6 separate regions of the Homo sapiens genome follow, and regions 1, 3, 4, 5 and 6 are each reported to be linked to region 2. The links are microRNA targets in miRTarBase. Many come from high-throughput screens and were not tested one by one. Region 2 holds a microRNA gene; each other region holds the end of a gene's coding sequence.
What was found. The annotated mature microRNA hsa-miR-520a-3p reads AAAGUGCUUCCCUUUGGACUGU and lies in region 2 at 1,469-1,490, opposite strand. An mRNA with a match to its seed (bases 2 to 7 or 8) in the 3' UTR can be bound and repressed. Matches are read on the target gene's strand: a 7mer-m8 pairs with bases 2 to 8, a 7mer-A1 pairs with bases 2 to 7 and ends in A, and an 8mer does both.

Region 1: the mRNA of KLHL8 is a reported target of hsa-miR-520a-3p. Seed matches in the 3' UTR shown: 8mer at 1,444-1,451 and 7mer-m8 at 1,009-1,015.
Region 3: the mRNA of CEP104 is a reported target of hsa-miR-520a-3p. Seed matches in the 3' UTR shown: 7mer-m8 at 2,244-2,250.
Region 4: miRTarBase lists MANEAL as a target of hsa-miR-520a-3p. The part of its 3' UTR that is shown has no 7-base or 8-base seed match.
Region 5: miRTarBase lists MIXL1 as a target of hsa-miR-520a-3p. Seed matches in the 3' UTR shown: 7mer-m8 at 3,123-3,129 and 7mer-m8 at 2,559-2,565.
Region 6: miRTarBase lists TIMM17A as a target of hsa-miR-520a-3p. Seed matches in the 3' UTR shown: 7mer-m8 at 3,563-3,569 and 7mer-m8 at 2,837-2,843.

Annotation. Positions count from the first base shown.
Region 1 is chr4:87,160,297-87,164,370 of GRCh38, forward strand. KLHL8 (kelch like family member 8) reads right to left here. Exons shown (of 10, transcript NM_020803.5): 9 at 3,582-3,783; 10 at 1-3,346. The coding sequence ends at 3,223. Among named protein-coding and RNA genes, the nearest start is that of KLHL8, 58 kb to the right of the region's middle.
Region 2 is chr19:53,688,334-53,692,422 of GRCh38, reverse strand. It overlaps MIR520A (microRNA 520a), which reads right to left and starts at 1,542; the gene lies at 1,458-1,542. It overlaps MIR1283-1 (microRNA 1283-1), which reads right to left and starts at 3,942; the gene lies at 3,856-3,942. The region is part of intron 2 of LOC107985342 (a long non-coding RNA gene); the gene reads right to left.
Region 3 is chr1:3,811,683-3,815,755 of GRCh38, reverse strand. CEP104 (centrosomal protein 104) reads left to right here. Exons shown (of 22, transcript NM_014704.4): 22 at 239-3,670. The coding sequence ends at 354. Among named protein-coding and RNA genes, the nearest start is that of LRRC47, 17 kb to the right of the region's middle.
Region 4 is chr1:37,799,808-37,803,896 of GRCh38, reverse strand. It overlaps MANEAL (mannosidase endo-alpha like), which reads right to left. Exons shown (of 4, transcript NM_001113482.2): 4 at 2,764-4,089. The coding sequence ends at 3,694. It overlaps YRDC (yrdC N6-threonylcarbamoyltransferase domain containing), which reads left to right. Exons shown (of 5, transcript NM_024640.4): 5 at 1-952. Among named protein-coding and RNA genes, the nearest start is that of C1orf122, 5.9 kb to the left of the region's middle.
Region 5 is chr1:226,225,470-226,229,558 of GRCh38, reverse strand. MIXL1 (Mix paired-like homeobox) reads right to left here. Exons shown (of 2, transcript NM_031944.3): 2 at 2,499-4,052. The coding sequence ends at 3,747. Among named protein-coding and RNA genes, the nearest start is that of MIXL1, 3.8 kb to the right of the region's middle.
Region 6 is chr1:201,969,165-201,973,253 of GRCh38, reverse strand. TIMM17A (translocase of inner mitochondrial membrane 17A) reads right to left here. Exons shown (of 6, transcript NM_006335.3): 6 at 2,590-3,785. The coding sequence ends at 3,700. Among named protein-coding and RNA genes, the nearest start is that of SNORA70H, 7.3 kb to the left of the region's middle. RefSeq lists a silencer at 2,284-2,461.

The DNA.
Region 1 (4,074 bases), not on the chromosome of region 2:
ATGAAGGGGAAAGAGACATAGCCAATGGCATCCCAGTAATAATTTCTTTACACATCTGATACGAGAAACCACAGAAACATTCTTAACTGATACAACATGAATTAGATTCTAAAGGCATTCTTTAAGACATAGAGAAAAAAGAAACAAAGAAAATTCTCAAGTTTACCATTTACAAGAATAGTTTATGCAATTTCAAGAAGTCCTTACCAAGGCATTCAACAGCACTGTAAGTTCAAAGTTCATTTGGGAATTAAAAGAATGAATAAAATACTCCTTAGAGGGAGTACAAAGTTTATTCAAACATTTTAGAAATAATCAATTAATTACATAAGTATATAGTGAAATCTGTCAAAAACAATGTCAAGTAACTTGTTTTTAAAGTGGCAACGCAATATAGTAAAGCAATGGCTTTAATGACTAAATGAAAGAATCACAAAGCACCTAGAAATATTTATTGAAGAAATAATAAACAAATTTTCATGATTTATTTTGTCCATTTGCAATTTCAGTATTTTAGCTCTATCTCATATCATTTTTTGGTAGGTGCTGTTAACATATGAGGTTAAAGTGGTAAGTCTCACAATAAAGTAGCCATCTTCTTTGAATATTTCATCTCTTCATTTCTATGAATATAATCATCTTTCAGCTGCATGATTCCTTCAGCCTGATTCTCATTTCATGTCTCAATAAACGTGTTTTTGCCTGATAAAGAGAACTGTGCACATATTGATTCTGCTTTTTTATCTTTTTTTTTTTTTTTTTTTTGAGATGGAGTTTCACTCTTGTTTCACCGCTGGAGTGCGATGGCTCAACCTCGGCTCATTGCAACCTCCACCTCCTGGGTTCAAGCAATTCTCCTGCCTCAGCCTCCTGAGTAGCTGGAATTACAGGTATGCGCCACCACGCCTGGCTAATTTTTGTACTTTTAGTAGAGACAGGGTTTCACCATGTTGGTCAGGCTGGTCTTGAACACCTGATCTCAGGTGGTCCACCCACCTCGGCCTCCCAAAGTGCTGGGATCACAGGCGTGAGCCACCATGCCTGGCCTATTTATCTTTTCATACTGCTGTCAGGTCCTTCAAGGCTATGCTTCTGATTGCCCACACACTTTACTTCTGAGTATTTCATATTTTACGGGTAGGTAGGGTACCAACTTAGTATGTTAGATAACCATTGTATAGTAAAAACCAGAAATGAAAATATAATAACCCTTATAACTCCTTACATATAAGAAAGACAGAAATACATCAAAGAAAAAACATTTTAAATAATCTCAGGAAACAATAACAAGATCCTCTCCCCGAAAATAAATATAACAAACATATTAGTAACCATAGCTAAACAAACACTGTAATATAAGAACTCCATTAGACATAAGAAATAGACATTGAAGCCAGGTTTTGACACTTATTCTCCACATCCAGCCAGTTGTCACCAGTCTAGTAAGTGCTACAGGGTTAACTGCCTCTGGACTGACTGAAATATGGTTGTACTTACACAAAAGAACACTGGTTCAGATCCAGCAATGACTTATGAACTTGCCCATAGGTAGAAAAAAATAGCTTACTGGATTTATATCTGCTTCATAAGAGACTTTTATCTGCCAGCCTGACCCCTCTTAAAACTTTTTTTTTTCTTTTTTGGTTTGATATACTCAATAGGCACTGGCTTTTTTTTGTGATGTGGCTTTTTTTGTGATGTGGCTTTCCACACTATTGTAGAAGTCCAGAATCCCATTTAATAAGATGCATGAGCTATTAGTCAATGAACTTTAGGGCTGGATGGATCAACGAAGTGTTTTTCACTGCCCCAGCTTCCTTATGAACCAGATTACTGACCAGCGGTGAACTACAATAAATTCGAAGACACAACTAACAAAAACTTAGGAAGGCCTGGAAGAGAGGTGCCAAACTGCACTGCAAATACAAAATAAAATATTTTCATGTTCTTGATAAATATTTATAAAAAAATATACATATAATGAATAGGCCATTTTATAATGCTAGTTAAAACTTTGAAGAGCTGTTAAATCTGTAGGTCCATCAATATCCTGGCTTCAAATCAATATGTAGAAATATTTTTAATTAAATTTCAATAAATACACCAGAGGGATTTAAATATGATAAAAACAGTAATTTCAATCTCTGTTTTTACCAACAATATGTTTAATTAGTTCGTGATGGGCTTGAACTAATCAATAAACTACAGTCTACAAAAAGGTTTTTGTAAAAATGCATTCATTTCTGATAATAAATAAATGCAGATTGATTCTGTACAGTCAGAAAAACCAGGATGGTGGCAAATAGCAAAATAGAGAGATGATAAATCTTGGATCCAAAATCAAATGATCAAAGAAGACAGTTAAAGATATTTTCAGACTGCCCACATTAGAGTCATGTAATCTGCATCATTCTTTCTCAAGGTCTCTCAATTGGGCACCAGAATAACATCAGATCTAAAACCTTGTTCAATATTTCCTCTGGTTCACCTTTTGATTATGTAACAAATACTTTTTGCAAAAGATGAAAAAATAAAACTGTAAAATCATTTGGATGGAGTTAGCCCAGCTAGGTCTTTTGGTGTCCTAGCAATTCAAACTGAAATTAAAGGCTTCTTATAGCCTATAAGCTTCTGAAAATGCAGCTAAGTGGCATTCAAAAAGACAGAACATTTTTTCTACTTCCGTAAATATAAAAGAAATTGAAAAATCACCACCTAGAAAAAAAAAGCTAGGCATAAATTCATCAGCACCAAGTAGAAATGATCTTCAAAAGGGGCAAGTCTCTTATGTATCCTTGTGTTAATGAATAGGTACTAATCTCTCCTCTAGGAAAAACCCACTGCCTGACGTTAACATCTTTAGGCAAAAGAAAAGGCAAAACTCAACAAATTACATTTTGATTCATCCAAATAGAGAGAGAGAGAGAGATTTCAAGATTTTTGGCACTACTTTAAGCATTTTTCAGGGTAGGTATGATTTTAAGTTCGACTATCTTCTTCCCTACTCCATTATTTGCAAAAGCAGGAAGTATCAAATTTAACTCTATTACTAATAATTCTTCAGGTATCATTCCAAAAGTTGTACTTAGTCACAATACAACAGTTAACATTTAAATAAGACTCTAGTTGCAGTAAAAAGTGTTGAAAGGTGGTCATATCAAAATCTTGGTTTTCTTTTGTACCTATCAGATATGACTAAATTGTTGGTGGCCAGAACTCAAATCACATACAGTCAACCACATTATTGGATCCATGACCTACATCTCGAATTTGGCTAGTTAAACAGGAACACACAGCTACTCCTGCTCCAGCTCTGCAGTGAGACACAGATCCAACAAGCTCCCACCTGAAAAGACGGAGAAGAAAAAATGTTACAAAGCATAATTTACTTTACTCAAAATACTAACCAAAGACAAAAATTCCCTATGTGAGACTGGTTTTGTAGGACAGCAAGCTTCCAGTGGGAGATAAGATATCCCAAAGCTTAGTATTAACTACGACTAGCAACATTTTAACACTCTGAAGTAATCTACTATTATACCAGAAGATAATATAAAGCACGGAGACAACATGTAAATTACCTATTCAGCACTGGATCAAACGCTTCTACTGTATTTAAGTATGCATTGCCATTATGACCACCAACTGCAAAGATTTTGCCCATCACTGTTGCGATTCCCACTCCACCTCTGGGAGTAGTAAGTGCTGCCACATAATCCCACTTGTTGCTTCGGGGGTCATACCGCTCAACTGAACTCAGAGGAGAATTATCATCAAAACCACCTATGTAAAGAAATATTTTAAAAACAGCATTACATTCCTTAGAAATTAACTACTAAATTTCAATTCAATGGCTTTTACAACCCAATCTTTTAAAATCATTTTAGAATGGTTTAGAGAAAATTTTTTTAAAAAATTCATCCCAATACCTGTCTACCACCACCAACAACTACCATTAGATGTTGTCTACAATTCCACGTTAGGTAAGTGACATTTTCCTCAATACTAGGATTAAAGATCTTGTAAGTAGGAAAAAAATGGAGTCCCTGTATCTAAGCAGATAATTCAGAGAAA
Region 2 (4,089 bases):
CCCTTCTAGGGTCCTCAAGATTTTTGTGAAAACAACTGGTTTTGTTGCATGCTACATTTATCACTGTGACTGAGATTCATCTTGTCTACAACAGTTTCTTATATTAGCCACAGCTAATATAAGACACATTTGACATCTTAGCAAGTAACTGGCATTTAGATGCAAGGTTTAAGCCCATTGGAATGGTACCTTGGAATCGTTACCCAAAGAAAATAGGATAAACATGGCAGCTACAGTCAAAGAACTCACTGGGGTTGGCATTAGTGGGTGAGGGTTGAATCAACTACACCCTTCCTGCAGAGAAAGCAGGTCTATTCCGAGAAATGATGGCAAGATGTTGGGGAAAAACAAATTTCAGTGTTACGGACAAGCAGATTACACTAAAAAGACACGAGTGAACAGGAACAAAAAGAAATTGTATCAATACGGACACCCACTGGGGATTACAGAATAGACTGGATGGACTTGGAGGATTACCCACTCTCTTAATGAAGGAACCATGGTTTGGATTGATTATACTAAATTGATGGGAGGCCATTGTATGACATGACCAACCCAAATGAAATCTGTGGGACCAGGTGCTATGTAATCTGTTTTTAAAGAAATGGGATCTTGCTATGTTGGCCCAGGCTGGAGTGCAGTGGCTATTCAAAGGTGGGATCTGTGCACGGTATAGCCTTAAAATCAAAGCACCCTCCCGCCCCGGCCCCTGCAGTAACTGGGACTGTGTGCCCCATGATGCCTGGCCAAGTCAACTATCTTTGAAATGGGTCATCAGGACAAGGTGGCTCACACCTGTAGGATCGCTTGAGCTCAGGAGTTGAGACCGTCCTGAGCAACAGAGACCCCATCTCTACCAAAAATTAAAAGCTGAACCAAGTGTTGTGTCACGCCCCATGTAATCCCAACTACTTGGGAGGCTGACTCAGGAAGACCACTTGAGGCCGGACACAGTGGCTCACGCCTGTAATACCAGCACTTTGGGAAGCCAGGGAGGCAAATCACTTGAAGTCAGGAGTTGAGAACAGCCCAGCAAACATGGTGTAACCCCATCTCTGCTAAAAATACAAAAATTAGCATGACATGGTGGTGGGCGCCTGTAATCCCAGCTACATGGGAGGCTGAGGTGGCAGAACTGCTGGAACCTGGGAGATGGAGGTTGCAGTGAGTGGAGATTGTCCTACTGCACTCCAGCCTGGGTCACAGAGCCAGATTCCATCTCTAAATGAATGAATGAATAAATAAATAAATAAATAAATAAATAAATAAATAAATAAATAGAGGGTCTCTTGGGCCCAGGAGAGCTAGGTTGGAACTGCCACTGCACTCCAGCCTGGGCAACAGAGACCCTGTCTTGGAGAAAAACAAAATCAGAACCCCAACATCATCCGAGTCTGATGATGAGCGTGCTCTGCAAATGTATTACCAAGATCAGCATCAACTTCAACGCTGCTTTACTCAAACCGAAACAGTCCAAAGGGAAGCACTTTCTTTTCTCTCAGACAACAGAAAGTACTTCCCTCTGGAGGGTCACAGCCTGAGATCTTCTTGCTCCAGCACTCTGGGTTTATTGTTGGAATTTTCCTTGACCAGGTTTAAATGGACACAAAAATAAAGATGCATTTTTCCTGGCCCTGTTTGCATGTTTTCTGGAATCCAGAATATAAACCCCCTAAAAGGACCATCTCCAGTTCCTTCTTTCAAAGGCTCAGCAGGTTAGCCTTGTTCATCAAGGGGCAATCCTCCTGAGTTTTGCCCCCAAAGAGAAAAAGCAATGCCTACTACTCATACCTTATCTTTAACCAAGAGAATCGAACTGAATTTCTAGAGAACAGCAATGGATTTTGAGCCAAGTGTTCACTTGAGTTCCAGTATAGGCACATGTAGTACCCATGGGGGCATCCAAAATGGAATCTAAGATGTTGAAGAATGTACATTGTCGCACACACAAACATCCTCCAGGAGAGACCACAGGCTACGCTGTAAAAGCTCCTCAATAAAAAAATACACAAGTACCTGTTGGGTGCGGTGGCTCACATCTCTAACCCCAGCACTTCAGGACGCCGAAGTGAGAGGATCACTTGAGCTCAAGAGTTCCAGACAAGCCTGGGCAACATGGTGAAGCTTCATCTGTACAAAAAATACAAAAGTGAGCCAGGTGTGGTGGTGCATACCTGTAGACACTAATTCAGGAGGCTGCGGTGGCAGGTGGAGGTTGCAGTGAGCCAACATTGCACCACTGCACTCCAGCCTCGGTGATATAGTCAGGCTGTGTCTTGTAAAAACTAGAAACACATACACACACACACACACACACACACACACACACAAAGACACACACTCAAAGTGATAGTCTCCTGCCTCACCCTCCGGAGTAGCTGAGACTACAGGCGTGCGCCACCAGCCCTGGCTAATTTTTTGTATTTTTAGCAGAGACATGGTTTCACCATGTTGGCCAGTCTGGTCTCGCCCTCCTGATCTCAGGTTATCCACCCGCCTCGGCCTCCCAAACTGCTGGGATTACAGGCGTGATCCACCGCACCTGGCCATACATCATATATTTTTGAGACCCTGTCTCAAAAGAAAGAAAGTTCCATATACTGTATGCTCACAGAAAGAATAATTCCTACACATAAGTCCTTGCTTTGGCAGCTCACACCCCCGTCTCTAAAATACAAAACCTAAATCAAGTGTGCGTTGATAACGTGGTCATACACCCTGTATTTCAGCTTCATTTACCCAATAAAAACTCAAAGCCCATGCACTCCACCTCTGTGCTCTTGCGAAGCAATGCACATCCCATCTGCAAGGGACACTGAGGTTCCCTTCAACTCTACCTCAAGTCAAGTCAAGGGAGGTTCTGTAAACCAGTGCAGGCATAACTTCCACGGAGTGAAAGGTGTTGAGGGCTGGACGAACAGGCATCACTCACTATGGCAACAAGAGCGGATGCGCATCCCACCTGTTACTAGGGAGGCCCTTCTAGGGTCCTCAAGGTTTTTGTGAAAGTATCTGTGGTTTTGTCCCATGTGACATTTATCACTGCAACTGAGATTCATCTTGTCTATAATAGCTTGTTTCTCATATTAGCCACAGCCAACATTTCACAGCTTACCAAGAAATTTGCATTTAAATGTGAGGTTTTGCAGGTTGGAATGGTACACTGGAAAAATTACCTGCAGAAAACAGGATAAACAGTGCAGCTGCAGTCACAGCACTCACTACGGTTGGCATGAGTGGGTGAGGGTTGAATCAACTACACCCTTCCTGCAGAAAAAGGTCTATTCCGAGAAATAAGTGGAAGCTGTTAAGCAAGAAAAATTTTCGATGTCAGGGACGAGCAGATTAAATTAAAAAGACAGGAATGGGCCGGGCACGGTGGCTTATATCTATAATCCCCAGCACTGTGGGAGGCCAAGGAGGCAGATCACTTGAGGTCAGGAGTTGAGACCAGCCCCGCAAACATGGTGAAACCCCGTCTGTGCCAAAAGTACAAAAACTGGCAGGTCATAGTGGTGAGCATTTGTAATCCCAGCTACTAGTGACACGGAGGTGGGAGAATTTCTGGAACCTGGGAGGCAGAGGATGCAATGAGTGGAGATCATCCCACTCTACTCCAGCCTGGGTGACAGAGCCAGGCTCCATCTCAAAAATGAATACATAAATAAATAAAAAGAGGATCACTTGAGCCCAAGAGAGCTAGGTTGGAAGTGCCACCGCACTCCAGCCTGGGCAACGGAGACCCTGTCTTAGAAAAACACAAAACCAAAACATAACCCCGCTATCATCCAAGTCTGATGATAAGCATGCTCTGCAAATGTATTACCAAGATCAGCATCAACTTCAACACTGCTTTTCTCAAACCGTAACCCTCAAAAGGGAAGCGCTTTCTCTTCTTTCTGACAACAGAAAGCGCTTTCCTTTGTAGACTCATAGCTTGAGATCTTCTTGCTCCAGCACTCTGGGTTTCGTGTTGGAATTTTCTTTGACCAGGTTTAAATGGACAGAAAAATAAAGATGCATTTAGTGGCCCTGTTTGCATGTTTTCTGGAATCCAGAATAAAACGCCTGAAAAGGACCATCTCCAGT
Region 3 (4,073 bases), not on the chromosome of region 2:
TATTGCGCCACTGCCCTCCAGCCTGGGTGACAGAGTGAGACTCTGTCTCAACAAAAAAAAAAAAAATAGGAAGCTGAAGAGTAGACCCTACTAGGCTCAGCCCTGGCTCCTGTAGTCGGGTGACGGCCATCAGCATGGGCCTGGGACGTTGTTGCTGGGTGTCTGTGGCCACAGGTTCTGCACCTGGTCCGTGGGTAGGAGTGCCCCTCCTAATGCAGGTCCTGTGCTTGCTCTGCAGGGAAAAGCTCAGCTGTGGCCGCATCAGGCCCCTTGGGGTCAAAGGCCGGAAGCAAGATCCCCACCCCGAAGGGCGGACTGAGCAAGAGCTCCAGCAGGACGTACGCCAAGCGCTGACGCGGCGCTCGGGCTCCTTGGTCTCTGTGAGGGATGGAGCGGGTCTCCTGATTCTACACCATCTCTCCAGAACTCTCTGGCCTTGGTGGCCCCATGCTCTGGCTGCTGTCCCCAGCTCCCCGCCGTGCACGCCTCTTACGCGTCTGTGCCGTCAGCTCTCGTGCAAACGATATGGATGCAGCTAACCAAAGATCCTGCGTGCAGTGCCAGGACCTGGCCGCACTGTACATTAAGCCTTCAGGGCTGTCTCAGGCCTTCCTTAGAATCAGAGAAGGAAGCGTCCTGTTTGGAGAGAGCCAGAGAGCACCGCCGGGAGGCGCTCGCGCAAGGCCACGGTCAGCACAGGCACGGTCCCGCTTTCCTTAGTGCTTGGAGCAATTTCCATAAAACATTCACCAGAAACCTTTTGCACATCGGTCTCTGCCACACGCAGTAGAATTTCCGCAGGGCTGTGGCTCGGCCAGCAGCGGTTCCAGGAGAGTGGCGGTGCGCACGGGCCTCCAGCCGTGCCTTCCCCCTGCAGGCCCCGTCTGCTGGGCCTGCTGCCCAGTGCACTCAGCCCCAGGTAGCAGAACTCACGTTCCCACTATAGCAAGAAATAAAGGCAAAAGAGAACATCTTTTTTTTAATCGTAGTTTTTTTGAGAATTGGTCCCACCTCAGCCGCACCTTGCTGGATGCTTCTCCAGTAGTGCTGCCCCTGTGACAGGCATCAGCTCCCTGCTGGAACTGAGGTAGACACAGGTGTGGGCCCTTCCCGTGCCTTTGCTCAGAGGCGCTTCACTTTCTCCACACTTTCGAATTCCTAAAGACATGTGGAGGAAGTCACTGTTAAATGAATTTCCACCTGATCACCCTGTGTTCACAGCAGGCAGAAGCCCACTGGTATGGGCCTCCCGCCCCTTCCACATCCATGTTGTGATTGGATCCATAAGTTTACTTTCTTCAAAGAGTTGATAGGATGTTTAAAACATCAACACATTGCTTAAAATGATGAAACCAACCCTCAAAAAACAGTCTCCTAACCAGCCATCCCCTCCTGTGGGAGTGAGCTGGGGGTTTTGTCCATAGCTTTGGTTGGGCCTGTGTCACATCCAGGCAGCCATGTGGAGGGAGTCAGGGTCTGTCTGGAAGCATCCACCCTCTCGCTGCCCCAGCCTGTGCTCCCAGGGGCCTAGGCTACCATGGACTGAAGGGCAGTCCCCTCCCACCTGGTGCCCAGGGCTTCTGCTTGCCTCGCTGATGTTGCATGGGCAGACTTCAAAAAGGATAGTTAGAAAGGTTTGGGTTGATGGAGTTTGCATTAATGCAATTAGTGTATAAATATGTTTTAATTGCCAACCGTGTGAAACAACAAAATATCTAAAAACTAATCCCGATTTGAACAATGTACTCCCTGGCCTGGATACATTAATAACCATAAATTTGCATGAATTAATCTCCACGTTTGGTAAACTAATACCTCTGGTTGACTGAGAATACTGAGTAAGATATAAGACCTACCAGGAACCTTTAAGAATATGCTCTGCTCAGTGTTGTTTGTCTGCTTGTTTGCGACGGAGTCTCACTGTGTCGCCCGGGCTGCAGTGCAATGGCGTGATCTTGGCTCACAGTAACCTCCACCTCCTGGGTTCAAGCAATTCTCCTGCCTCAGCCTCCCTAGTAGCTGGGATTACAGGTGCACACCACCATGCTCGGCTAATTTTTTCTATTTTTAGTAGAGATGGGGTTTCACCATGTTGGCCAGGCTGGTCTCGAACTCGTGACCTCATAATCTGCCCACCTTGGCCTCCCAAAGTGCTGGGATTACAGGCGTGAGCCACCACGCCCAGGTTAAATGTGTTTATAAGGAGAGAGGAGGCCAGGCGCGGTGGCTCACGCTGTAATCCCAGCACTTTGGGAGGCCGAGGCGGGCGGACCACCTGAGGTCAGGAGTTCGAGACCAGCCTGGCCAACATGGTGAAACCCCATCTCTACTAAAAATACAAAAATGAGCCAGGCGTGGTGGCCTGTAGTCCCAGCTACTTGAGAGGCTGAGGCAGGAAAATTGCTTGAACCCGGGAGGTGGAGGTTGCATTGAGCCCACATCATGCCATTGCACTCCAGCCCAGGCGACAGAGCGAGACTCCGTCTCGAAAAAAAAAAAAAGTATAAGGAGAGAAATAACTTTAAAGTTTATTAGACAAAACAGAGTATAGATGCCAAGATGTCTGTAAAATGATTTTTTCTGGTTTTAAAGAGATGTTGGCCATTATTTTCTAATCCATTTTTAAAATACAGACAAAACACTTCTTTAAACAGAACAAGAATGAGAAAAGTTAACCAAGGAATTATTCTTTTCTCACCAATCAACACTTTTAAGAAATATATATATATATATACACACATATACACATGCCTTCTATATATTGTAACTTAAAGAAAATACTTATAAAAAGACTTCATTTTTAGTGATTGACAAGCAAACGGGTTCATTTAAAACAGGTTCCTCTTTTGTTAGTTACAGGGGGTTTTTTTGTTGTTTTTTTGTTTTTGTTTTTGTTTTGCGGGGGTGGTGGGGTTTGAGACGGAGTCTTGCTCTGTTGCCTAGGCTGGAGTGCAGTGGCGCGATCTTGGCCCCCTGCAACCTCCGCCTCCCGGGTTCGAGCAATTCTCCTGCCTCAGCCTCCCGAGTAGCTGGGATTACAGGCGTGTGTCACCACGCCTGGCTAATTTTTTTGTATTTTTAGTAGAGACGGGGTTTCACCATATTGGCCAGGCTGGTCTCAAACTCCTGACCTTGTGATCCACCCACCTCGGCCTCCCAAAGTGCTGGAATTACAGGCATGAGCCACCGCGCCCGGCCCAATCATGTGTTTTTGTTGAAATGATCCTACCAGTGATTAGTGGCTATTGAGAGTTTTACAGGGTTATACATTGTTAAGGGACCAAGAATCAAGTACAAAAAATTAAAAAGGAACTGTAAAATCCCTTGGTCATTCATAAATAAATATCTAAATTAGGAATACTAATTAATTGAATTTTCACTCATGAGTATGTTCTGAATATTTAATATTTATTTCTATTATTTTCATATGTTAAGATATTCCATTAAATCTAACTTAAAAGAATTGTATGTATAAATTGGCATTAGGATACAAATGTAAATGTTTTTAATGAAATTTTGCAACTTTTTAATATTTTAACATAGTTTTCTATTTGTCTTTATTTCAAGTACCAGAATTACAAAATATCTAAGTAATATATTTTTGTTGTCGTTTTAGGGCTTAAGGGTTAATTCACCCAGAGTATATTAATATAATAAAAAGATCACTAAATGTTTTGTCACTTTATTTCAACATTACAATTAAAAAGTAATTTGTCAATTACATTTACTTTAATAAACATGGAAGTGTAGCCCAGCCCTGAAACCTTAGAAAGTAGATTGAAAATTGCTGAAAAAAGACACGGCAAATATGAAGTTGCCCTGAGGGTTTGGTCCCTAGAATAAGTAATTTGTCAAAACAAGTTCACTGCTGAAGAAACTGGACAATTTGAAGCCACATGGAGATTAGAGAAAATGATTGACCAGTTTCATCCTGTGGAATAAATTCAGAATGTTCTCTAAGTTCTCTAATTGTGCCCAGTAGAGGATTATACTTTCTAGTCTCTTCATGGGTTTTCCCCCCTTTGAAAGAGGGATTTTACCAGCCCTCAAGGCTGTTTTGCTTTTCAACTAAG
Region 4 (4,089 bases), not on the chromosome of region 2:
CTGGTGCTGGATACTATGTGTCTGTCCACTGACGACTGTCAAGGCCTCATTTGCAGAGGCCACCGGAGCTAGGGCACTAGCCTGACTTTTAAGGCAGTGTGTCTTTCTGAGCACTGTAGACCAAGCCCTTGGAGCTGCTGGTTTAGCCTTGCACCTGGGGAAAGGATGTATTTATTTGTATTTTCATATATCAGCCAAAAGCTGAATGGAAAAGTTAAGAACATTCCTAGGTGGCCTTATTCTAATAAGTTTCTTCTGTCTGTTTTGTTTTTCAATTGAAAAGTAATTAAATAACAGATTTAGAATCTAGTGAGAGCCTCCTCTCTGGTGGGTGGTGGCATTTAAGGTTCAAACCAGCCAGAAGTGCTGGTGCTGTTTAAAAAGTCTCAGGTGGCTGCGTGTGGTGGCTCATGCCTGTAATCCCAACATTCTGGGAGGCCCAGGCGGGAGAACTGCTTGAGCCCAGGAGTTCAGAATCAGCCTGGGCAACATAGCAATACTCCGTCTCATAAAAATTAATAAATAAAAAGTCTCAGGTGACCAAAGGCTCCTGAAGCTAGAACCAGGTTTGGATAAAGATTGAAGAGCCACAGGCCACTCTTCCCTCTGAGCCATTGGGCCTAGTGGTGTCATGTATTGTAATTGCTCGCAGGGAGAGCAGTCTTTTTGGTGTAATAGTGGGATGTCTGCTTAGTTGGCAGGGGTTCAGTCCAAATGGAAGAATATTGGGAAATAAACCTCCACTATCCTTTATAGCCAGGGACTTTTTTCTTATTTATTCATAAAATAAATTATAGTTAATTATACCCATAACACCTTTATTTAAATCCAGTGTTCTCCGCAGCCTTTTGTCTATTTATATGTGTACCAAGTGTTAAACATAATTATTATTGGGCATTTGAACTTTGTTTTTCTTTAAAGAAATGCTGCTATTAAACATATTTGTAAATGGTTTGTTTTTCTTCTTTTGAATTATTTCCTTAGGAGAGTAGGTCAAAGTGTAGGAAGTATTTATGGCTCTCAGTATGGATTAGCCTTCAAAAGAACTGAGTCAAGTTACACTGCTGTTAGCAGTGTGTGAGAATGGCTGCCTCTGCCCCCTGGCCTTCCCATGTTTAGTATTTTTCAGATTGTGTGTGTGTTAAATGAAGCCAGTGTTGCTACCTTCTGTAAATTACTACAGGTCAACATCCAACCCTTTCAGCTGTCCCTGCCTGCCTTGGTTTCCCCAGCTAAGCCCCAAAGCCAGGTGGCCAGGCCTGCTCATCTCTCTGGTGGGGCTTAATATCAGTTACCTAACTGGGGCTGGGTGTCCTTGAGGTGACCACTGGGGTCTATTTCCTCCTTCCTCCCCTTCCCTCTTGTACCCTAGTTCCCAAAATTCTGATTCAGTCTTTTTTTTTTTTTTTTGAGACAGAATCTCTGTTGCCCACACTGGAGTGCAGTGGCACGATCTTGGCTCGCTGCAAACTCCGCCTCCCAGGTTCAAGTGATTCTCACACATCAGCCTCCTGAGTAGCTGGGACTACAGGTGTGCACCACCACACCCTGCTAATTTTTTTGGTATTTTTAGTAGAGATGGAGTTTTGCCATGTTGGTCAGGCTGTTCTTGAACTCCTGGCCTGAAGTGATCCACCCGCCTTGGCTTCCCAAAGTGCTGGGATTACAGGCATGAGCCAAGGCACTCAGCCCATTTTTTACTTTTTTAAAGACACGTCTCTCTGTGTTGCCCAGGCTGGTCTCGAACTCCTGAACTCATCCTTCCACCTCAGCCTCCCAGAGTGCTGGGATTACAGGCATGAGCGACCACGCCTAGCTTCCAATTCAGTCTTGAGCCCATAAACTTCTCAGTACAGTGGTTTCCAATGCACCTGTTTCCAAGTATATCCTAAGAATCTTGTGTTAACAGGGGCCTGCTTTAATCAGGGTTCCTGCAATTAGCGTATTAGTTTATTGGTAAATAAGCACTGGTTTGTTAATTCCCTCTAGAAATCTTGTTTAGTAATGTTTTTTGTGTTTTCTTTTTGTTTGTTTGTTTGTTGTTTTTGTTTTGAGACAGTCTTGCTCTTGCCCAGGCTGGAGTCCAGTGGTGCCACATTGGCTCACTGCAACCTCCGCCTCCCAGGTTCAAGCGGTTCTCCTGCCTCAGCCTCAGAAGTAGCTGGGATTACAGGCACCCACGCCCAGCTAATTTTTGTATTTTTAGTAGGGATGGGGTTTCACCATGTTGGCCAGGCTGGTCTCGAACTCCTGACCTCAGGTGATCCACCTTCCTTGGCCTCCCAAAGTGCTGGGATTACAGGTGTGAGCCACCACGCCCAGCCTTGTTTAGTAACTTTTTTTTTTTTGAGACGGAGTCTCGCTCTGTCGCCCAGGCTGGAGTGCAGTGGCGTGATCTCGGCTCACTGCAAGCTCCGCCTCCCGGGTTCACGCCATTCTCCTGCCTCAGCCTCCCAAGTAGCTGGGACTACAGGCGCCCACCACTACGCCTGGCTAATTTTTTTGTATTTTTAGTAGAGACGTGGTTTCACCCTGTTAGCCAGGATGGTCTCGATCTCCTGACCTCGTGATCCGCCCATCTCGGCCTCCCAAAGTGCTGGGATTACAGGAGTGAGCCACCACGCCCAGCCATTGTTTAGTAATTTCTTAAGCAAACCTACTTGTTGTGGTAAAGCCATAGCCAGCCCAGCTCCTGTATCAGTTTGTCACAGAATCTAAGGTCAGAATCTGTGAGGTCTTAAAGAGAGCAAAAGGAATGCTTACTTGAGAATACCAGTTCATATTTAATTACTACTAATCACAGTAGCACTGAACATGGCTCTAGTGAGTGGGCCTCAGTCAGTTCAGGCAGCTAAAGGGAGGGGGATTTCCTCCTAGTCCTCTCCCTAGAGCTAAATATGCATCTGGGAAAAATTAGGCTCTGGAGCACAGAGGTATTTTTCTAGAGGAAAAAGAACTGAACTCCCAGCACTAGGTAAAACTGCAAAAAGAAAAACACCTGTGCCCAGGCACTAGCTACAAGGCCACACCAGAAAAGGAAAGCTGGGTCCTGGAAGCTTCAGGACAGGAACTCTTCCTTGGTCAAGTTTTCCCCAGCACCTAGCACATAGGAAGGTGCTTGATGAGTGAGTGTTAAATGAACCTGTGAGTGCTCAGGATGATTTCCTGATAATTGGGTTCAGGAATCTACTGGGAGGAGCTTAAACCTAGAAGTTCCCTTTTTGAAAGTCTCAAATATGGTTCCCTAACTTAGAGAAGACAGATGATGTGGGAAGGAGGCCTGAGGAGAGGATGCAGGCTGGCAGAAGGGAGCAGGGTGCATGCGAGCCCAGACCCTGACACCCTTCCAAGGGTGGTGACTGGGTGGCCACTACACAGCACCAGCCTGCTGCAGAGTTCAAAACTAGAAGGGGTTACATGAAAGTGTTCCCAGGATGTGGAGCTGCCCTGGGCTAAGTTCAGTCACCTGCCAGCCTCTGCCGTTCCCATCACCACAGAGCACCTCAGCACCACTCGCCTGAGGAACGGGCTCTGTGTTGCACAGGCCCATGCCTGACGGCCCACCCAGAAACACCCATCTGCTGACCTCTGACCTGGGAACGAGTGAGTGGCTACAACCTCAGCTGAACCCCACATGGTGACATCTTCCAGCAAGGCAAGGACATCAGCACCTCACGCCCATTTACAGGCCCCTCACATGAGCCACTGCTCCTTCTCTTTGATGAAGTGCTCCGCCCAGCGGCGTGTCAGCTCCAGGTACAGGCTGGGCTGGTGAGGCAGGTAGTCCAAATACAGGCGGGTGGGTGTCTTCTTGGGAATGGCCTTCTCAATCTGGGTGCCCTCGTGCCACTCATTGAAGGAGGTAATGGAAACGATCTCGGGCCTCACTGTCAGGGCCGCCTGCAGGGCCGTCTCATAGTACTTGCCATTGACCCTGTTGCGCGTATTGTGGTTGTTCCAGGGCCGAATGCTGGTGTCTATGTAGCCAGGCCCCACACTGGGGATGAACATGAGGTTGTTGGCATCACAAAAGTTCTTCACAGCTTTCCAGTTCTGATGGGAAGAACCAAAGGAGAAACCATTGGAGGC
Region 5 (4,089 bases), not on the chromosome of region 2:
GGTAAAGTGCCTGTTCATGGGCAACAAATAAATATTTGTGTAATGAGTGGGCAAATGAGAGTTTCAAAAAAGCTCTAAGCAACATTAATGTCATCAGAATAAGAGTATGGTCTTCCGTGGTGATTTCCTTGAAAGATGAGACAGTAATGACTGGCATGTAGAAATTCTGACTTGGTGATTGCTTTTAAACCTATCACATTACTTTATCATTAGTCCTGACTAACAAGACCACTGCAATATAGGAGGCACTGTATGGTGGTAGACTAATGGGTGGGCTGAGTTTGAGTCCTGGCCATGCCATTTATAAGCTGTATAATTGTGAGACACTACTTAGATTCAGTTTCTTGATCTTTAAAGTAGGAAGATTAGTCCCTGTCTTACATGGTAGGTGTGAGGATAAAATAGATAATGTCTGTAACACATTTAGCAGTTAGGGCCTCTTAGAGTTTGAGAGAGCTGCAGGCTACTTCTTAGAGGATCCCACAATTTAAAATGTGACAACAGGATTTACATATTTATAGATTTTTACAGTTGTTCACTGGGGAAACAACATGAGACAATATAAAAGCAATAATAAAATAATTACCAGATTTTTTCGTAAGTGCGATTCTTAGTGGACCATAATTTAAAGTGTTATATGTCTTTCAGTTTTGTGGATGTATTTGCAGTATCTCATTTGGCCATGTCACAAGTTTAAATGTAAGTCACAAGTTTAAATGTAAAGCTCTGTGATTGTGAGACCTCCTGAGCACCTCCAGGATGGGCCCTGAGCACAGTGTTAATAGCTAATGTTTATCAGCTCATTTTTGGTTTCAAACAGTTTTCAAAGAATCGATAAGTACACTTTGCTGCTAAGGCCTCAACTATGTTCTCTTGGCTGCTTTTTGCTGGGGGAATGGCAGGGACAAGGTCTCACTCTGTCACTCAGGCTGAGTGCAGTGGCACGCTCATAGGTCACTGCAGCCTTGAACTCCTGAACTCAAGCAGTCCTCCCACATCAGCCTCACGATTAGCTGGGACCACAGGCACATGCCACCATGCCTGACTTTTTTTTTTTTTTTTTTTTTTTGAGACAGAGTCTCACTGTCACCCAGGCTGGAGTGCAGTGGCCCAGTCTCGGCTCAGTGCAACCTCCGCCTCCCGAGTTCAAGCAATTCTCCTGCCTCAGTCTCCTGAGTAGCTGGGACTACAGACACCTGCCACCATGCCCAGCTAATTTTTGTATTTTTAGTAGAGAGAGGGTTTCACCATGTTGGCCAGGCTGGTCTTGAACTCCTGACCTCAAGTGATCTGCCTGCCTTAGCCTCCCAAAGTCCTGGGATTACAGCGTGAGCCACCGTGCCTGGCTTTTTTTTTTTTTTTTTTCAAGAGACAGGGTCTTGCTATGTTGTCCAGACTGGTCTCAAACTCCTGGGGTCAGGCAAACCTCCCACTTCAGCCTCCCAAACTGCTGGAATTACAGGCATGAGCTACTGTGCCCAACCTCCTGGTTGGTTGCTTGCTTGCTTGCTTTTTTCCTCAACTCCTAAGTGCTTGGAAACTCTTGGTTGGTTTTTGTTGTTTTTGTTTTTTGAGATGGATTCTTGCTCTGTTGCCCAGGCTGGAGTGCAGTGGCACGATCTTGGCTCACTGCAACCTCCACCTCCCAGGTTCAAGCAGTTCTCCTGCCTCTGCCTCCTGAGTAGCTGGGATTACAGGCATGTGCCACCATGCCCAGCTAATTTTTGTATGTTGTGGTGTTTTTTGACACAGTCTTGCTCTGTTGCCCAGCTCTTGGTTGCTTTAAAAAATACAAAATTAGCTGGGCGTGGTGACGGGCGCCTGTAATCCCAGCTACTCGGGAGGCTGAGGCAGGAGAATCGCTTGAACCCGGGAGGCAGAGGTTGCAGTGAGCCAAGATCATGCCACTACACTCCAGCCTGGGTGACAGAGCAAAACTCCATCTCAAAAAAAGAAAAGTACAAACCACTTGAATAACATCTCTGAAAATTAGGGCATCTGGCATGTATAATCTCATGCTCTTCTAGTAACCATCAAGACATGATGTCCTGGCCCTAGCTAGCTATGGCATCCCATGAGCCTACTTTAAAGCACAGTTTACAAAGAAACTTCACCTGTGGTTGCCTCATACACAGACCATTTCCTTTGACTCTAAAGGAGTTTGAAAACTCTCAAAATATCAAAATATTTTAATTGATCTTAGACTGACTTAGAAACGGTTATTTACATACATTTAGAATTATAAATTGCAAAGAGAAATTTCCCAAAACCAAAATACTCACAAAATATTATTAAACATTCAAGCAAAAATGTTTTTAACCCAATTAAATTTCTCAGCTCAGTGGCCTGCTGATATAATATTGATTACTGGCTAAAAACTACATTTGCAGAAACTTTTAGAAATGTCTTTCATGGCCACATAGTATGTACTGAGCAATTGTGGAGTGAAGCACTGTACTAGGAGTTATCTAGAAGAATTCATTTAAATAGAAATTACATTGGAACATTTGTGAAAGACATTTAATAATCCACAAAACTTGCACAGGAAGTACAATAACAAGTGCTAAGGGTAATGGAGTGATCGAAGTAACAGGTGCAAAATCAGGATTACTTAGAGAAAATTTCAGACTTCAGAAGGCAGGTGGGGAGTCCTCGAGTGTTTTGAAAGCAAAAGGTATGAATTTGGTTCAAAACTGAAAGGAGTGACTTTAAGACCAAAGCATATATTGTGGATAGTTGACCTTCAGATTTGCATAGCTGTCCTGCAGGCTAAGGATGATATCAGTTATCTGGGAGGGTAACTGAAAGCTTTTTATAATTTGGTAGCAACTGGAGGCTACCACAGAACCATAGAGTAATTTTTTTTTTTTTTTTTTTTTTTTTTGAGAGCCTCCCTCTGTCTCCCAGGCTGAAGTGCAGTGGCACGATCTTAGATCACTGCAACCTCCACCTCCCAGGCTCAAGTGATTCTCCTGCCTCAGCCTCCTGAGTAGCTGGGACTACAGGCTCCCGTCACCGTGCCCAGCTAAGTTTTATATTTTTAGCAGAGATGGGGTTTCGCCATATTGGCCAGGCTGGTCTTGAACTCCTGACTTCAGGTGATCCACCCACTCGGCCTCCCAAAGTGCTGAGATTGCAGGAGTGAGCCACTGCACCTGGCCCACAGAGGGTAATTTTTTTTAAGTAGTTGAGAAGCTAGAGGCAAGGGGGCTGTCGAAATAATCTGCATGCAGAGTCATTGGAGCTATGATTGAACGTGAAGATGACAGGCCCAATTTTAAAAAGTAATAAACCTAGGATGAGGGTTGAAGAGACGGGGTAGAGTGACTTTAAGATTATAAGCCTTGGAGGGACCAGGAGAAAATGGCAGCTGTCAAACACAAGGGGAAACTGAGTCAAGCTGAGGCATTCTTGTGAAGAAAATAATGAGTTCTGAACAACCAGTCCAAAAACTAAAAACAGGCCTGGCAAGAAGGCATAGGGATGCAGACCAATGGAATGTGCAGGCTTGGAGAGAACACAGGTAAAAACGAATGCGGGAACTCTGGGGTGGGAGTGTGGGCTTAAAACGTCATTGACAAAGTGGCGGGGTACCTTCAAATGTGAGAGGTGCTGTCAAAACCATCATCAAGGTTAACAAGGACATGTCCTTAGCATGGAAGTCAGAAAGGACAGTATGCTGATGTGTCTCTCCCAGGCTGTCAGTCATGGCTCCTCAGAGCTTATCCCGAATTCTCCCAGAATCCTCAAAAGTTACCAAAGGCAGAAAAGATGTGTTCCTCCCATGAGTCCAGCTTTGAACCAATGTCTTCAGAGAGAGGGGAACAGGTTTCAAAATTCTGACCTTGGGAGCTAGAGTCAGAGATGCCCCCTCCAACCCCGTTTGGTTCGGGCAGGCAGTTCACATCTACCTCAAGAGGCAGCTGGGGCTTCAGACATTTCGTTTCAGTTCCAGGAGCACAGTGGTTGAGGATAATCTCCGGCCTAGCCAAAGGTTGGAAGGATTTCCCACTCTGACGCCGAGACTTGGCACGCCTGTTCTGGAACCATACCTGGAAGAGGGGAGAAAATAAAAGCTGCTTTTGGTTG
Region 6 (4,089 bases), not on the chromosome of region 2:
GTGCGATCTCAGCTTACTGCTCCCTCCATTTCCCAGGATCAAGGAATCCTCCTGCCTCAGCCCCCTTGAGTAGCTGGGGCTACAAACATATGCCACCATGCCCAGCTAAATTTTTTGAATTTTAGTAGAGACAAGGTCTCATCCATGATCTAACAGACTGAATAGAATTTATTATTATTATTATTTGAGGCCAGATGCGGTGGTTCATGCCTGTAATCCCAGCACTTTGGGAGGCGGAGGCGGGCAGATCACCTGAGGTTGGGAGTTCGAGATCAGCCTGACCAACAAGGTGAAACCTCAAGTCTCGACCCCAAGTGATCCACCCGCCTCAGCCTCCCAAAGTGCTGGCATTACAGGCATGAGCCACTGGGCCCAGCCTGAATAGAATTTGGACAATTAATTTTAACTATAAGTAACATGCCACAGGGTGGAGCTATGACCATGCTTTCATAATTTGCAGACATTTCCTATGTGAAAAACAGATGCACTTTCAATAGCAGGTGCAGCTGTACCCATGTCTTCCAAACCCTGATTCAGAAATCCACTATTTCGGCCAGGCACAGTGGCTCACGCCTGTAATCCCAGCACTTTGGGAGGCCGAGGTGGGAGGATTGAGTCCAGGAGTTCAAGATCAGCCTTGACAATGTGGCAAAACTCTGTCTCTATTTAAAGAAAGTGCTGGCCAGGTGCAGTGGCTCATGCCTGTAATCCTAGCACTCCATCTCAAACAAACAAACAAACAAACAAACAAACAAAAGAGTCTTGTTCTGTTGCCCAGGCTGAAGTGCAGTGGCATAATCATAGGTCACTACAGGCTTGACCACCTAGACTCAAGGGATCCTCCCGCCTCAGCCTCCCAAGCAGCCGGTACTACAGGTGTGCACCCTATCTCTGGCTAAATTTACATTTTGTGGCTAGCGTCTCACTAGCCCAGGCTAGTCTCCAACTCCTGACCTCAAGCGACCTTCCTGCTTCAGCCTCCCAAAATGCTGGGATTATGGGTATGAGCCACCATCCCCAGCTGAACTGTTTAATAAATATTCTAAAACTAAATTTGGTATACTAGAGTAGAGCTCAAGATAAAAAGTAAAAAAACTAAATTGTTTTAATAACTGAAATAAATAACTGGAGAAACAAGCAGATTAGGAAGGAGGTTTTCCCTAGGTCTTTACTGGAATAGTGAAGTTAGTTTCTCACTTTTAAGGTTGAAATGCCCATCAGAAATACCCCATCTGTTTTGCTTTGTATCTGACATCTTGTGCCAAATTGGCATGCAATAGTGGATTACTTTTTTGTTTTGAGACAGTCTTGCACTGTTGCCCAGGCTGGAGTGTAGTGGTGTGATTTTGGCTCACTACAACCTCTTCCCTCCCAGGTTCAAGTGATTCTCCTGCCTCAGCCTCCCAAATAGCTGGGATTATAGGTGCCCGGCACCATTACCAGCTAATTTTTTGTATTTTTAGTACCCACCGGGTTTCACCATGTTGGCCAGGCTGGTCTCGAACTCCTGACCTCGTGATTCACCCTCCTCAGCCTCCCAAAGTGCTGGGATTACAGGCGTGTGCCACCGCGCCCAGCACTTTCTTTTATATTTTTGAGACGGAGTCTCGCTCTGTCGCCCAGGCTGGAGTAGTGGCAAGATCTCGGCTCACTGCAAGCTCCACCTCCCGGATTCACGCCATTCTCCTGCCTCAGCCTCCAAAGTAGCTGGGACCACAGGCGCCCACCACCACGCCCAGCTAATTTTTTGTATTTTTAGTAGAGACGGGATTTCACTGTGTTAGCCAGGATGGTCTCGAACTCCTGAGCTTGTGACCTGCCCGCTTTGGCCTCCCAAAGTGCTGGGATTACAGACGTGAGCCACTGCACCCGGCCAGACTCTTGTGTCTTTAAAAAAAAAAAAGTTAAACCTAGAACTACCATATGACTCGGTAATCTCACTCTTATGTATATATCCAAAAGAACCAAAAATAGGAGTTGAAACAGATAGTTGTACACCAATGTTCATAGCAGCATAATTCACAATAGCCAAAAGGTAGAAACAACCTAACTGATCATCAAATAAAATGTAGTATATGCACACTATGGAATATTATTCAGCCCTAAAAATAAATTTTGCTACATGCTACTACATGGACCTTAAAACACGCTAAGTGCATTAAGACGGACACACAAAAACAAATATTTTATGATTCCACTTATATAAGGTACCCAGAAAAGGCAAATTCACAGACAGAAAGCAGAATTGTGGTTACTAGTGGTTGTGGCGAGGAAAGAATGGGAAGTTATTATTTAACAGGTACAGAGTTTATGTTTGTGAAGGCTGGACATGGTGGCTCATGCCTGTAATCCCAGCATGGGGTGTGGGAGGCTGAGGCAGAAGGATGGCTCGAAGCCAGGAGTTCGAGGCTGCAGTAAGCTATGACTGTGCCACTGCATTCCAGCCTGGGTGACAGAGTAAGACACTGTCTCTAAAAACAAAACGGAGTTTATGTTGATGATAATGAGAACATTTTGGGTATACATAATGGTGGCTGTTATACAACATTATGACTGTATTTCAATGCCACTGAATTATACACTTACAAATGGTTAATAAGTATTATTTTATGTATATTTTACCACAGTCGAAAATTCCCAAATTATCCAAACACAATCAGTAATTAAATGCCTACCATATGTATGGCATTGGGCCAAAAGATAAACGTGTGTTTACAGTACCCACATGGCTTTGTTCTCCATTTCCCACAGATGTAGGCAAATGTGTAATTAACTAACATCATGCCTCCTATAGGGCCACATGTCACTTCCAATATCAGGAAAATGACCTGTTCTGAAGTGCTCATCCATTTTCCAGGCCCAACCAGACCCCAAAATACATCGTTTATGCAGAGGACTTGGAACACATTCAAAACAGTACATACTTTATTTTCAAGCATACAAGAAACACTAAACTCTTCCAGTGCCAGTACACTCTCCATGAATTCTTCATATAGAATTGGGTATATTGGAAGCAAGTTGTTTCTGGTGAAATTTCTGATGATCAGGAATCAAGACTCAGTAGCCCTAAAGGAAGAGAGTTTTGTATCCAATATCCTCAAAACCAAGACATAGTATATTTTACTTTCAAAGTAAACTATAAACATTTTACCATATCCTTCAATCCATAAAGCATCTCACTGTGAAATGATCCATGTTGACTCTGCATAATTCTCAGAAGTCACTTCAAGTGATGAGGGACTAACTATAAAACATGCATTATTTGAAGTACATGAGCATGAAACATCGAAGTCTACAACTTATCTTAAAAGAAAGAGTAAGTTCCACCAGCTTTTTATTGTTTGAATAACAGAACACACAAAACCAGGCAGAGAAGTCCGCAAGGAGATGATGATCATATTTCACTGTTTTTTGGCCTTTTGGTCCTTCATCTTTCAAGCACTTACTGTATTTTCCTTTAGCGATTTAAACATTTATTTTGATCACAAATGCAATTCAAGTGTGAATAAATAAACGTATTATCTTTTAGCACCCTTCCCCGCTTGTTCCTTTAAATAGAAAAAAGTGCTAAATGTCTCTTTATAGCCTATTGGCCATAGCTGTCCCACCTATGGTTTTAAAAACAGACTGTAACTTGATCTTCTGAAATCCTTCTCGAACCACAACTCGTTCTGTTAAAGAAATCCTAGGAAAGAAGTCCTACTGATATTGTCGATAGTCTCCAAAAGGTGAGGAAGGTAACTGAGTTGAAGGCAACTGGGAGGGGTCTTCTGCAAACTGAGGACCTGCAAGTGAGAAATAAAAAGGATTTAAAAATCACCTGAATATTATATTATTAAAAAGAACAAATCTCTATAGAGAGTAAATCAATCAACAACAAAAAAATGTGCTAAATTAAAGCTATAACCCTAAATTTCTTTATAGATCTGCCTAATTCCCATAAGAGTACTGGAGAACCTTCAAATTTGGTATAACATATGACAGACTGGCTTGCTATGCTCCAGAATGAACAGTTTTCAAACACTATGCTAGGAAAGTCAGACGGATTAATTATAGCAAGAAGCAAACTTCAAGTTTTTAAAGCAATTG